Homo sapiens: one gene and its partners. The protein of the gene in region 2 interacts with the protein of the main gene of each other region in a pairwise test. Each region holds a gene or a part of one and is shown on either strand. Other genes may lie near its edges.

The links.
Region 1: the proteins of YAF2 (region 2) and SPANXN2 interact in binary tests that used the Homo sapiens proteins (3 or more experiments, as listed by UniProt).
Region 3: the proteins of YAF2 (region 2) and LGALS7 interact in binary tests that used the Homo sapiens proteins (3 or more experiments, as listed by UniProt).

Annotation. Positions count from the first base shown.
Region 1 is NC_000023.11:143,714,134-143,717,882, reverse strand, and holds part of SPANXN2 (sperm protein associated with the nucleus on the X chromosome N2), read left to right. Parts: intron 1-3,749.
Region 2 is NC_000012.12:42,161,551-42,165,299, reverse strand, and holds part of YAF2 (YY1-associated factor 2), read left to right. Parts: intron 1-3,534; coding exon 3,535-3,687; intron 3,688-3,749. UniProt on the Homo sapiens protein: Binds to MYC and inhibits MYC-mediated transactivation. Also binds to MYCN and enhances MYCN-dependent transcriptional activation. Increases calpain 2-mediated proteolysis of YY1 in vitro.
Region 3 is NC_000019.10:38,771,686-38,775,434, reverse strand, and holds the start of LGALS7 (galectin-7), read left to right. Parts: upstream 1-1,917; 5' UTR 1,918-1,942; coding exon 1,943-1,948; intron 1,949-2,331; coding exon 2,332-2,420; intron 2,421-3,404; coding exon 3,405-3,606; intron 3,607-3,749. UniProt on the Homo sapiens protein: Could be involved in cell-cell and/or cell-matrix interactions necessary for normal growth control. Pro-apoptotic protein that functions intracellularly upstream of JNK activation and cytochrome c release.

The DNA of each region.
Region 1 (3,749 bases), on a different chromosome or scaffold from region 2:
ATCTACTATTGTTAGAATGTATAGGAATCACTTTCTGGGGAGCATGTGAGTGATGTTGATTTGCTAGTCCTGCCCTAGTAAGTGTCCTCAGGTCTGGTGTGTGGGAAAGGAGATGGTTTGATAGCTTCCTGAGGGGAAGTTTGAGTGCAAAGGGAACATGCCTTAGTAATATCTCTGAGATGGGCAACCATGGTGGAAGAATGTCTAGAAGTTTTTAAAAGCTGGAGTAGGGGCAGTAACCGGCATGGAAATGGTTGTGCACATATGAAAGTACAGAAGGTTTTTTAAACTTGGGCAAGACACTTTATCAGTGAGATCGAACTATTTTTTCCTGAATGGCACCAGCCTGGGCAAGTGGGTTTTTTTCCTGCTGGGTATATACAGGGTGTATGCTGGGAAAAAAAATGAGCAATAACGATGGGGTTTTAAGGGCTGCCTGCCAGGCTGCCGAATTTGTTGAAAGGTTTTTCTCGGTTTTGGCATCTGTAGCCTTTCGGTGTCCCTTGCAATGGATAATGGTGGCCTTTGGTGGTGGTTTATCCACCCCCAACAGCTTATGTGTAAGTTTGCCATTTCTTATGGGGGTTCCTTTTGTAGTTAGGAAACCCTGTTCCTGCCAGATGAAGGCATGAGACTGTAGGACATGGTATGCATATTTGGAATGGGTGTAAATGTTGACCCTCTTTCCCTTTGCTAGGGTGAGGGCCCTGGTTAGGGCAACTAGCTTTGCCTGTTGAGAGGTAGCATGGGGTGTGAGAGCATTCGATTCTAGGAGTTTATCTTCAGCACTGATGGAATAGCCAGCTGCTGGACATGGCTGCCTAAAAGAGGTTCCATTAACTAACCGTGTATGTGTTCCCTGCAAAGGGGCATCTGAAATGTGTTGGAAGGGGGAGGAGAGGGAGTCTAAGAGGTCCAGACAGGAGTGAGAGAGCTTAGAGTCGGAAGTGTTTACAGGGAGAAGGGTGGCTGGGTAGAGAATTTTATGTCTCTGGAAGGTGATTAGAGGGTTACCTATGAATAAGGCATGCACCTGCTGTAAGCAGGATGGTGGGAGGGATAGAAGGGATTGGTGGTTTATGAGGTCCTGTAGATAATGGGAAGATGCAATAGTAATGTGTTGGTAGAGAGGGAGTTTCCGTGCATCTAAGGCCAGCAATGTGGCCATACCCAAGATTTTTAGTCAGAGTGACCAGCCTCGGATGACAGAGTCCAGTTGTTTTGAGAGGCGTGCAATGGCTTCTGGGGCGTTGCCATATGTTTGGCAGAGTAGTCCAAGGGCAAGGCGCTGGTCAGAATGTACATAGAAAGTAACAGGCTTGGTGAGGTTTGGCAGTCCCAGTGCCAGGGCCATTAAAAGGGCATTTTTAAGTTTTTAAGTTGGAGTTGATGGGGCAAGCTGGGTTCAGGGGTTTTAGGATGGGCCCATGTGAGGCTACGTATAGTGGCTTGGCCAGCAAGTCAAAGTTAGGAATTCACAGCCAGAAGTATCCCACAAGGCCCAAGAAGGAGGGGAGGTCCTTTTTTTTTATGTGGGGAAGGGGCATGTCCCAAATTGGCTCCTTTCATTGGGTTGGGATGGCTCGAGAATTAGGGGTTAGAACAAACCCAAGGTAAGTAACTTTGATTTGGGTACCTGAGATTTTGTGGGTTAGGCCCAATATACTTGATTATGAAGGAAGTTTAAAACCTGAGTGGTGTGTTGAATGGACAGGTTAAGAAAGGGGCTACAGAGAAGGAGGTCATTGACATACTGGAGGAGGGTACTAGGAGCAAGGGGAAGTTCAGCTAGGTCCTTGATGAGGGCCTGTCTGAACAGGTGGGGCCTATCCCGGAACCCCTCTAAGAGTACAGTCTAGGTGTAAGTCCATGTGTAAGTCCTGTAAGAGTACAGGACATGTGAGTATTAGGATTTGACCAAGTCAAAGCAAAAAGACTTTGGTAAGCCAGATTTAAGGGAATAGTGAAATAGTTGTCTTTTAGTTCAATACAAAGGAGTGTGTGGTAGATGGGGCAATACGGTAGAGTAGAGTATATTGGTTGAGGACCACTAGATGGATTGGTACCACGGCCTGGTTAACGACTTGGAGATCCTAGACAAAGGGGTAAGTCCCGTCTGTCTTTTGGAAAGCCAGAATAGGGGTGTTGTGGGGAGAGTTAACAGGCTTGAGAATATGAGCTTGTAAAAGTTTACAGATAATAGGTTTGAGACCCCCTAAGCAAGGCTGGATTAAGGGGATATTGAGACTGATGAAGGAAAATGGAGGGGTTTTGAAGGGTTATTTTAACTGGGATGTGATGTGTGGCTATTGTGGGTTTAGAAACATTCCAAGCTTTAGAATTAACAGAAGGTAACAGGGTGGATAATGAGGATGAGTGGGGGGAGAGGGAAGCGTTTGGGTGTCAGAGTAAAATAAAAGGGGTAGAATTGTAGGAGCCACATTGCATGGAGTTCTGGAATTTACTTAATATGTCCCATCCCAAGATAGGGGTAGGGGACTGAGGGATAACCAGGAAAGAGTGGGTGAAGGGGGCTGCTGAATAGGTTGTATAATAAAGGACCAGTCTGTGCCTAGAGGGGATTTTATTGATTCTCACAATAGAGATCGAAGAACAGAAAAAGGGTCTAGAATATTCTGGTCAAACTGAGTAACTAGTTGTCCTATTGAGTATCCAATAGGAAAGACATGGGCTTACTAGAGACTGACAGAATTACCCTGGGTTCCGAGGTGGTGATGGCAGTAGGGGCGGTGGACTCCAGGCCCCACCTGTCTTCAGGTACAGGTGGTGAAGCAGGATGAAGAGTTTCAGTGAGCACAGTCTGACTTCCAGTGTTGCTTGATACCACAGATGGGGCAAGATTTCCAGAGTGTCCTGGGATTAGGCTAGGCTTTTGCCCAGTGTCCCTGTTAGACGAACTTGTAACAGGCTCCTGGAGTTGACTGTTGCCAAGTTGAGGAATTCTGTAGGCCTTGGGAACCCTGTTGAGTGGCAGCTACCAGCATTTGGTATTTAGCCTGGTCCTTCTTTAGGTTTGGATTTTTTAGTTCTTCCTCTCTAATCTTATAGATCTTGAAGGCCACTTTGATTAAGTCTCTTTGGAAGGTTTGAGGGCCACCCTCCAGTTTTTTAAGTTTTTTTCAAATGTCTGGGTCTGACTGGGAGATAAAGTATAAATGGAGGTAGTTTTTGCCCTTATTGGTATTAGGGCTTAAGGTGGCATATTTAGTTGTGACTTTTGAAAGGCAGGAGAGGAAACGAGCAGGGACAGCTTTATTTATGCCAGCTAGAAGGCATGATATCATATGGCCTGATTTCTGTCTGTCTACTGAAGTTGCCTGATAATTCCAACTGGGGCCAGTTCTGGGGACAGCTAGGGTCCCTATTGGATTATGAGCAGCATCTTGTTGGTGGAGGGTGTTCTCATGGACCTGGGCACCCATAAAGATGTGTTCCCTGTCCTCCAGGGTGAGGGTAGAGGAGAGGATGACATATATGTCATGCCAGGTAAGGTCATAAGATTTAGGGAAGTACAAGAATTCCTTGTGGAAGGAGGTTGGATCCATTGAAAAGGAGTCAAGTCTCCTTTCAATATGGGAAAACTCAGCTAGAGAGAAGGGAACTTGAATTCAGATTATGCCTTTAGCCCTCGCAACCTCCTGCAAGGGAAGGACTTTGGAAGGCCTTTGGGCATGTGCCTGGTTCCTAGCGAAAGGGGGTTGGGTGTGAGACCTGGTTTGAGGTGGAGA
Region 2 (3,749 bases):
TGGTATACTGACCATTTAAACATGGACAGAAGTTATTTCCTCTCTGTCTATAATAACTCCTCCTCCTGTTTTCTCTATCACAACACACAGTTTTTTTGTTTTTAATTTTTAGCGCATGAGGGCAGGGCCTATGTTTGTCTTGTTCATGGTTAATCTCCTTACCTAGTGCCTGACACATGTAAATGTGCAATAAAATTTATCAAACAAGTAGTTTCTTTTCTTTTTTTTTTTTTTTTTTGTTCCAGAAGACAGGGTCTCACTCTGTCACCCAGGGTGGAATGCAGTGGTGTGATCGTGGCTCACTGCAACCTCCACCTCCTGGGCTCAAGCGATTTTTCCACCTCAGCCTCCTACAGGCGCGTACCTTTACTGGCCAATTTCTGTATTTTTTTTGTAGAGATGGGTTTTCACTATGTTGCCCAGGCTGGCCTCGAACTCCTGGACTCAAATGATCTGCCTGCCTTGGCCTCCCAAAGTGCTGGGATTACAGGTGTGAGCCACCACGCTTGGTTGTAAACAGGTGGTTTTTTATAAAATCTTTCCTAGGTTAGATTTTTGGGCGTTTGTTAGCCAGAGTATCAACAGATTCACAATATGTATGGATTTAGTCCAGCCTTTTTTTTTTGATGAGATTTACCATATCGCTTCAATTTACCATATATTTTGGTGTTACTAAGCAGATTACTTCTTTTGAAATTTGAGTTATGCTGCCTCTTTTTAGTAAAGAATGTCATTGTTTTTAATACTCTTTTTCTTTCTTTCCTTTCTTTCATCTTACCTGTCCAACATGACAAAGCTAAATTATGATGAAGTTGATCAAGCTGAAAATATTATTCCTCTAATATTTAGCACATGGGATTTTTGTCAGTGGGGGTGGAAGGCAGACCGTAGTTGAAAATTGCATATATGAAGCCAACATGTATTGACCTCCTGCTCACACAGAAGGTCAGCCAGCTCCAAAAATATTTTGTCCTAATGCGTAATAAAATGTTCCCCCTTTTCTTACATTATAGTAAATCAACAGACTGCAAAACTTATACCTTCTATTTGGGCTATCTATGAAAGATACATAGGGATCCCCAAATTGGTGAATATCATATCTGACAAATACAGTCTAATCATGGCATATGTGAATAAGTAGATGATGGACTGTAGTTGGCCAGTGGCTAGACAGTAGTCATTTATTAACTAGGCAACCATTTTGTGCACATCAACTCCTTATCACAGAACCTTTGGCATTACTAAAAGTGTACTGTCAAAACCATGAGTGATAAATCTGTGAACATAAAAGGGTATATTTTATAAATGATACTCTGCCCTTTATTTCCTGAGTTAACTATTTCCTACCTCTAAAATTTCCTCCTATCCTGATTTTTCTCATCAAATAGAAAAGGGATCACAAACCTTAAGATACCTGGAGATAGAAGGGCTTTATTTTTAATAGGGCATGGAGTTGAGTGACTTACGATGTTGTAAAAAGATCATCATAAACTGTGTTCCTCCTACCTTCAGTGAAAGCTCTTTAGCTCCTAGAGAGCAGCAGAGAACTTTATTTGAATAATTGAACTATATACATTTATGTTTTGTGCTTCTTTTCTCTCAGAATTGAACCAGATGAAATAATCATAGAATTGAGGTACAAAATCATAATCTTTAAGTGAAAATCAACCTTCACATTAAAATAAGAATAAAAATGGAATAGTTGTGTAGTATACATTTAGGTAAGCCTAGGATAAAAAGAGAAAGATATGCAACTACTCAAGAACAGAAAAAAAGAACCACTATAGAAAATTTGTTGATGGTTAGAAAATAACAACAAACAACACTAGGTACAGAGATTACATGATCATTTATTAGACCACTAGTCTCACATTTTTACTTCTACTGTAGTGTAGTACCTTTCTATTTCAGACTAATGCCAGTAATCTTTGTAAAATTCAAGTCTGAATTTCTTCAGTGACTTATCATCACTTAAGGATAAAATCAGACTGCTTAGCTTTTAATCATGGGATCCCTTCTTATCTGTCCAGCTTGGTTTTTTTTCACTCTGCCACTCTGCTCTCCATCTCAAACTTTATCTTATAGTAGTAACAGTATTCACCAGATATATTGCATTTCCTCAAGCTTTTTTTTAAAGTGTGGTCCCCAGAGACATCAGCATAACTTGGAAACTAGTTAGAAATACAGTTTCTTGGGCTCTACTTCAAGGCCTACTGAATCAGAAATCCTGCGGGGTAGGGCTAAGCAAGCTAAACAAGCCTTCTTGGTGATTCTGATGTACCTTATATTTGAAAACCACCACCTTAACCCTTTTCTTTTTTAACCTCAGCCATTAACTACCATACTTTCAATATCACTTTTATTTGTGCAACTCTTAATCTACATCTCAAACTCTATGTCAGTCCTATTTTTTAAGTTGTATATTGGACATCTGTCCTGGATATCCTTTCAGTAGTTCAGACTGTCTAGGCCCTGAGCAAAATTCATTATCCATCTCCTGATATCTGCTTTACATACTGTTTCCTATTTTCTCTCAGCCATGCAGCTTTAATTCTTAGATTGTACAATATTTTCTCATTATTTTTTATGTTGTCTTGCCATAGAGGAACAGGAGAAAAAAAGATTTTTTAAAAACTGTACTAACCAAAAAAGGGTGAGGATTTTTCAGGCAATAAAGTTACCATTGTTTGTAGAGCATCTGTTAAAATGTATTTTTATCTTACTTCTTCCCTCCTTCCCTCTGCCTCTTTCCTTGCTATATCCTTCTTTCTCTCTTAAGAACTTAGAGACTGTATTTTGAACCTTAACCTCAGTTGTGCAAGTTCTGTGGCAAAGCTGGACAGGTGAAAGCTTGTACCAGCATCAGATGTTGAAGCCAGGCAACATTTCAGATATCCCTGAACAGTTCTTACAGTAGGTCCTCAATAAATATTTTCTAAATGAGTAAGTTAGCAAGTAGATGAGTCTCAAAAGACTGGGCAGATCTCCAGGGTCAAAAGAGCATGGTGAGATTGTGGCTGGAGATGTAAGAAACTTAAAGGATTTAAGCAATAAGGAGTGAGAAATTTTGATAATAAATGTTTATTAAATGAATAAATGAAAAGCTTTAAAGAACAGATAGCCATTGTCACAAATGGTCAGGTATTTCCTTCTCTGAAGGAGGGATAAATTATTATTTCAGTGAAAACTTTGAAGTTTGATTTTTAGAACTCATGTTTATATGGGTACATCCCATTTTTTTTGATATACATTTAAAATAATTTCTTATGTTGATTTACGTAACAGTATTCTAATGTTTGAGCATATATCTTAGACTATAAATTTTAATTGTTATAGTTTGTTCCATTTTTGTTGAACGGGAAAAACTGATACATATCTTTAAAATTGTATATTTAAATTACCTTACATATGAGGAATTTTTATACTTGAAAGTTATTGTTATTAACTTGTTTTCATAATGTGAGATATTCTGTCATAAAGCACTTATGTTTTAAGTTGTAATTTAAAATACCTTTCTTTTTAACATGCACACAGGAAACCTCGACCTGTCTCCCAGTTGGTTGCACAGCAGGTTACTCAGCAGTTTGTGCCTCCTACACAGTCAAAGAAAGAGAAAAAAGATAAAGTAGAAAAAGAAAAAAGTGAAAAGGAAACAACTAGCAAAAAGAATAGCCATAAGAAAACCAGGTAAATGTGAAGAGTGTTTTATGACATTTTTGAAATAATAAAACCATTTAATTTTTTTAACC
Region 3 (3,749 bases), on a different chromosome or scaffold from region 2:
CTCCCTGCAGCCTCTGATCTCCTGGGCTCAAGCAATTCTCCTGCCTCAGCCTCCCAAGTAGCTGGAATTACAGGCAGATGTGCGCCAACCCACTGGGCTATTTTATTTTATTTTTATTTTTTGTAGTGATGAGGTCTTGCTGTGTTGCCCAGGCGAGAGTGTCTTCTTTAGAATGGTCAATAATGTTAGAACAATGGAGTCCACCATTCAGGGGAACATTCTCGGGAACTAACTGAGCTGGGCTGGTGGTATGATCACCGGACACCCTGCTATCCTCTCTGTCCGTGCCCATGACATGTCCTTGGCACAAAGACCCCTCTGGAGCTGAGGGGCTGGCCTCTTCCTTGACTGAGAGGTGGCCCCTGTCTAAGCCTCAGTTTTGTCCTCTGCAGAATGGGGGTGCTTGCAGCCCCTACTGAAATGCAGCTGCTAGCCTCCCTCTCTGAGCTCATGTTCCCAAGAACTGGTCCCTGAGCTTGGTGCCTTGGAGTGTGTGGGGAGGGGGCGAGAGGCTGGGGGCCTGGGACGCAGAGGGTGGAGGATGGTTCTGGGTCTGCTGTCTCCACCCAAACTTTCCACTGCCAGCCTGCCTCTGCCCAGGCCTCTCAGCAGCCTGCTGGGTGGGGCAGGAGCTGGAGTGGCGAGTGGAAAAGGTCCAGGAGGGCTGCTGGGCTGCTAGGAGTGGTTTCTGCTCAGCTCCCACACCATCCCTGCCTTTCAGAAGCATCTTTCAGCCCTACCCGCCCCTCCACCAAGCCAATTCCCCAACCCTGAGTTCTCTTGCAGAGTCTTAGGCCCAAGGGGGCTGTTTCGGGCCTGGCGGGAGGGTCCCCGCCTTGCTCTGCTTTTGATCTAGGTGGTGATGGAATGCTAGGCCACCCACCACCCCAAAACCCACCTCATCCTGACCTACAAACTTGGTGGCATGATGGTAGCAGTCCTGGAAGGAGGAAGAAGAGAGACTTGAAGGAGAGAAGTGGGACAGGAATATGTGGTAGACAGAGTTAGGGGCAGAGACGGACAGAGTGAGACAGCCAGCCCCAGAGACAGAACCCACAGGAGAGGTGCGAGCAGAGGTGAGGAGAGCCAGAGGTCAGGGCAACGGGTCCTGCACGCTCCTGCCTTTGGCAAATCGCTTCCCATCCCAGCTTCAGCCTCCTCCTCTGTACAATGGGGGTGACCCATACTCCTCCCTGTTGGAATGATGGGGTCCCAATCAGTGATTTCCTGCATCTCCTGGGCAGCCGAGGGGCCTTGGAAATGACAGGCATAGTCCTAGTGGATCCCCTCCTTTCACCCCTCCTGACTGAGGACTTCCATGAACTGGGCACACTCCAGGACCCAGGGGTGCAGCGCTGAGGGGATCAGGCAGGCCCCCTGTGAACCCATGAAGCCACCCTGTCAGTCACTAGTGCTCCTATTGTGGCCGCTGTTCCATTACAGAGGCAGAAGCTTAGATTTCAGCACGGATCAGTCCAGGCAGGAGGTTCTCAGCTGGAGAGAAGGGTCTGGAGTTCCCACCCAGATTGGCCTCCCAGGACCTAATATGTCTGTGTATAAAATAAGAGAAATTACTAACAAATAAATACATGAAATGAGATAGAGGCTCTCCGTGTGCCAGGCAGCGGGAAGACAGGGGTGGAGGGGCAGTGGCACAAGGAGCCTTCTCTGCTGTGAGTTTATTACTATTAAACATTCCCTCTTATTATCAGCTCCTAGGAGAGGGGCAGTGCACCCGGGCCCTGGGTGATGGGGGGATCAGGGCCCCCAAGAAGAGGTGCCACTCCCGCTTCGCCGGGCTTGCCCCAGGGCCAGGGTCCGTGCCAGGTGTGGGTGGTGGGTGGGAAGGGGTGGGGTGAGTCATCAGGGCCAGCCCCGCCCTGCTTTTATTTAAGGTCCCCAGCAGGCCCCACCACCACGGCTGCCCAACCCGGTCCCAGCCATGTCCGTGAGTGCTCCAGGGGCCCGGGGCGGGGCCAAGCAGGGAGGGGGCTGGGGGCTCCTCTTTCAAAGGAGCAAGTGGGCAGTGAGTGTGCCACGGACTGGCCTGGGCTGTGGCCTCCGGGTAACCCCCATCCCGACTGTCCCCTCTACCTCTTTGTGGCTTCCTCTGGGGCCCTCTTTGAGGATCTTTCTGTTTGTCTTTGTTGCTCTCCCCATCTGTTTCCCTGTCTGTTTCTGGTCTCTTTCCTGCCTCTCCGCCACCCTTTCCTCTTCCACTGATTTCTGCCAGTCTCAGCCCTGGTCGGCTCCTCTGAGGGGTGACCCACCTTCTGCCTCCCTCCTTCGGTCTCACCGGCTCACAGTGGCCCCTGCACCCCACTCTTGCAGAACGTCCCCCACAAGTCCTCACTGCCCGAGGGCATCCGCCCTGGCACGGTGCTGAGAATTCGCGGCTTGGTTCCTCCCAATGCCAGCAGGTGAGGCCCCAGGCCCTAGGGGTAAAGGGTACAGGTCTCAGGATCAGCTGACTCCCAATTTTTGCAGTCCAGAAGTAGGGGCCCGAGGCCACCTGTATCCACCAGGCTAGGAGTCCGAGGCCATTTCTGACCTCAAATCTGATGTATTCGTATTTGCCCCCGTGCCTTTGTGGCTGGGGTCCCTAAGTTTCCCTAAGCATTTGAGGTCCCTGGGTAATCTCAGGGTTCCTAGATATAGTCCTATGACTTCCATGTCTGAGTCCCAGGGAACTCTGGAAATACTCCAAGTCCTGGAGACACCCTGGACCCTGGGAGTCCTTGCCAAGCCATCCTTTGACTTCCTGGCTAAGGAACTTCGGGCCTTCTGGATTCTGAGGTACCCTGGAAATACTGGGGTTCCTGGTATTATTCTTTGTCCTGTAGAAGCTGAGGGTTCCCTGAGCATCAGGAGCACCCTGGCTATCACCCAGACCTCCTGGGCAGCTCCCAGGCTCTTTGGAAATGAGGGCACCCTGCCCTAAGCGTAGTGAGTTTGGTCTGGGTAGGTTTCTGCCAAGGGCCTCATGATATTTTGGCTGCCTTGGGAATCTAAGCTCCCTGGTCATTAGTCGCCTACCTCTCCTTCTGCGGTGTGTGCCTGTCTTCAGGTCCCTGTTAATTTGGGGGTACTCTGGGAATGGGGAGTGCCAGTCCATAAGACCTTCACTTTGGTCTGGGCGGTTTATGTTTTGTTTGTTCTTTCGTTTTTTTGTAAGGTGGGGTCTCGCTATGTTGCCCAGGCTGGTCTTTAACTTCCGGGCCCAAGCGATCCTCCCTTCTCCACCTCCCAGAGTGCTGGGATTACAGGGTGAGCCACTGCACCCAGCCAACATTTCATTTACTTATTCATTCAAAGTAAATTGTAGACATCGGTATTCCTCACCCTCAACATTTCTTGGTCTGGGTGGTTTCTGAGCCCTGACGGCCACCATCCTCCTCTTCCAGGTTCCATGTAAACCTGCTGTGCGGGGAGGAGCAGGGCTCCGATGCCGCGCTGCATTTCAACCCCCGGCTGGACACGTCGGAGGTGGTCTTCAACAGCAAGGAGCAAGGCTCCTGGGGCCGCGAGGAGCGCGGGCCGGGCGTTCCTTTCCAGCGCGGGCAGCCCTTCGAGGTGCTCATCATCGCGTCAGACGACGGCTTCAAGGTGCGTCTCTGCGACAGGGGCGTGGACGCCAAGACTTAGGTCCCTGGAGCAGAGGGTTGGGCAAAGCCAGGCTATTGGTGGAAGGCAGGGAGGTTCGGGGCGGGGTGAGGGGGGTAGGGAAGTCGTGGCCAAGGCGGAGAAGG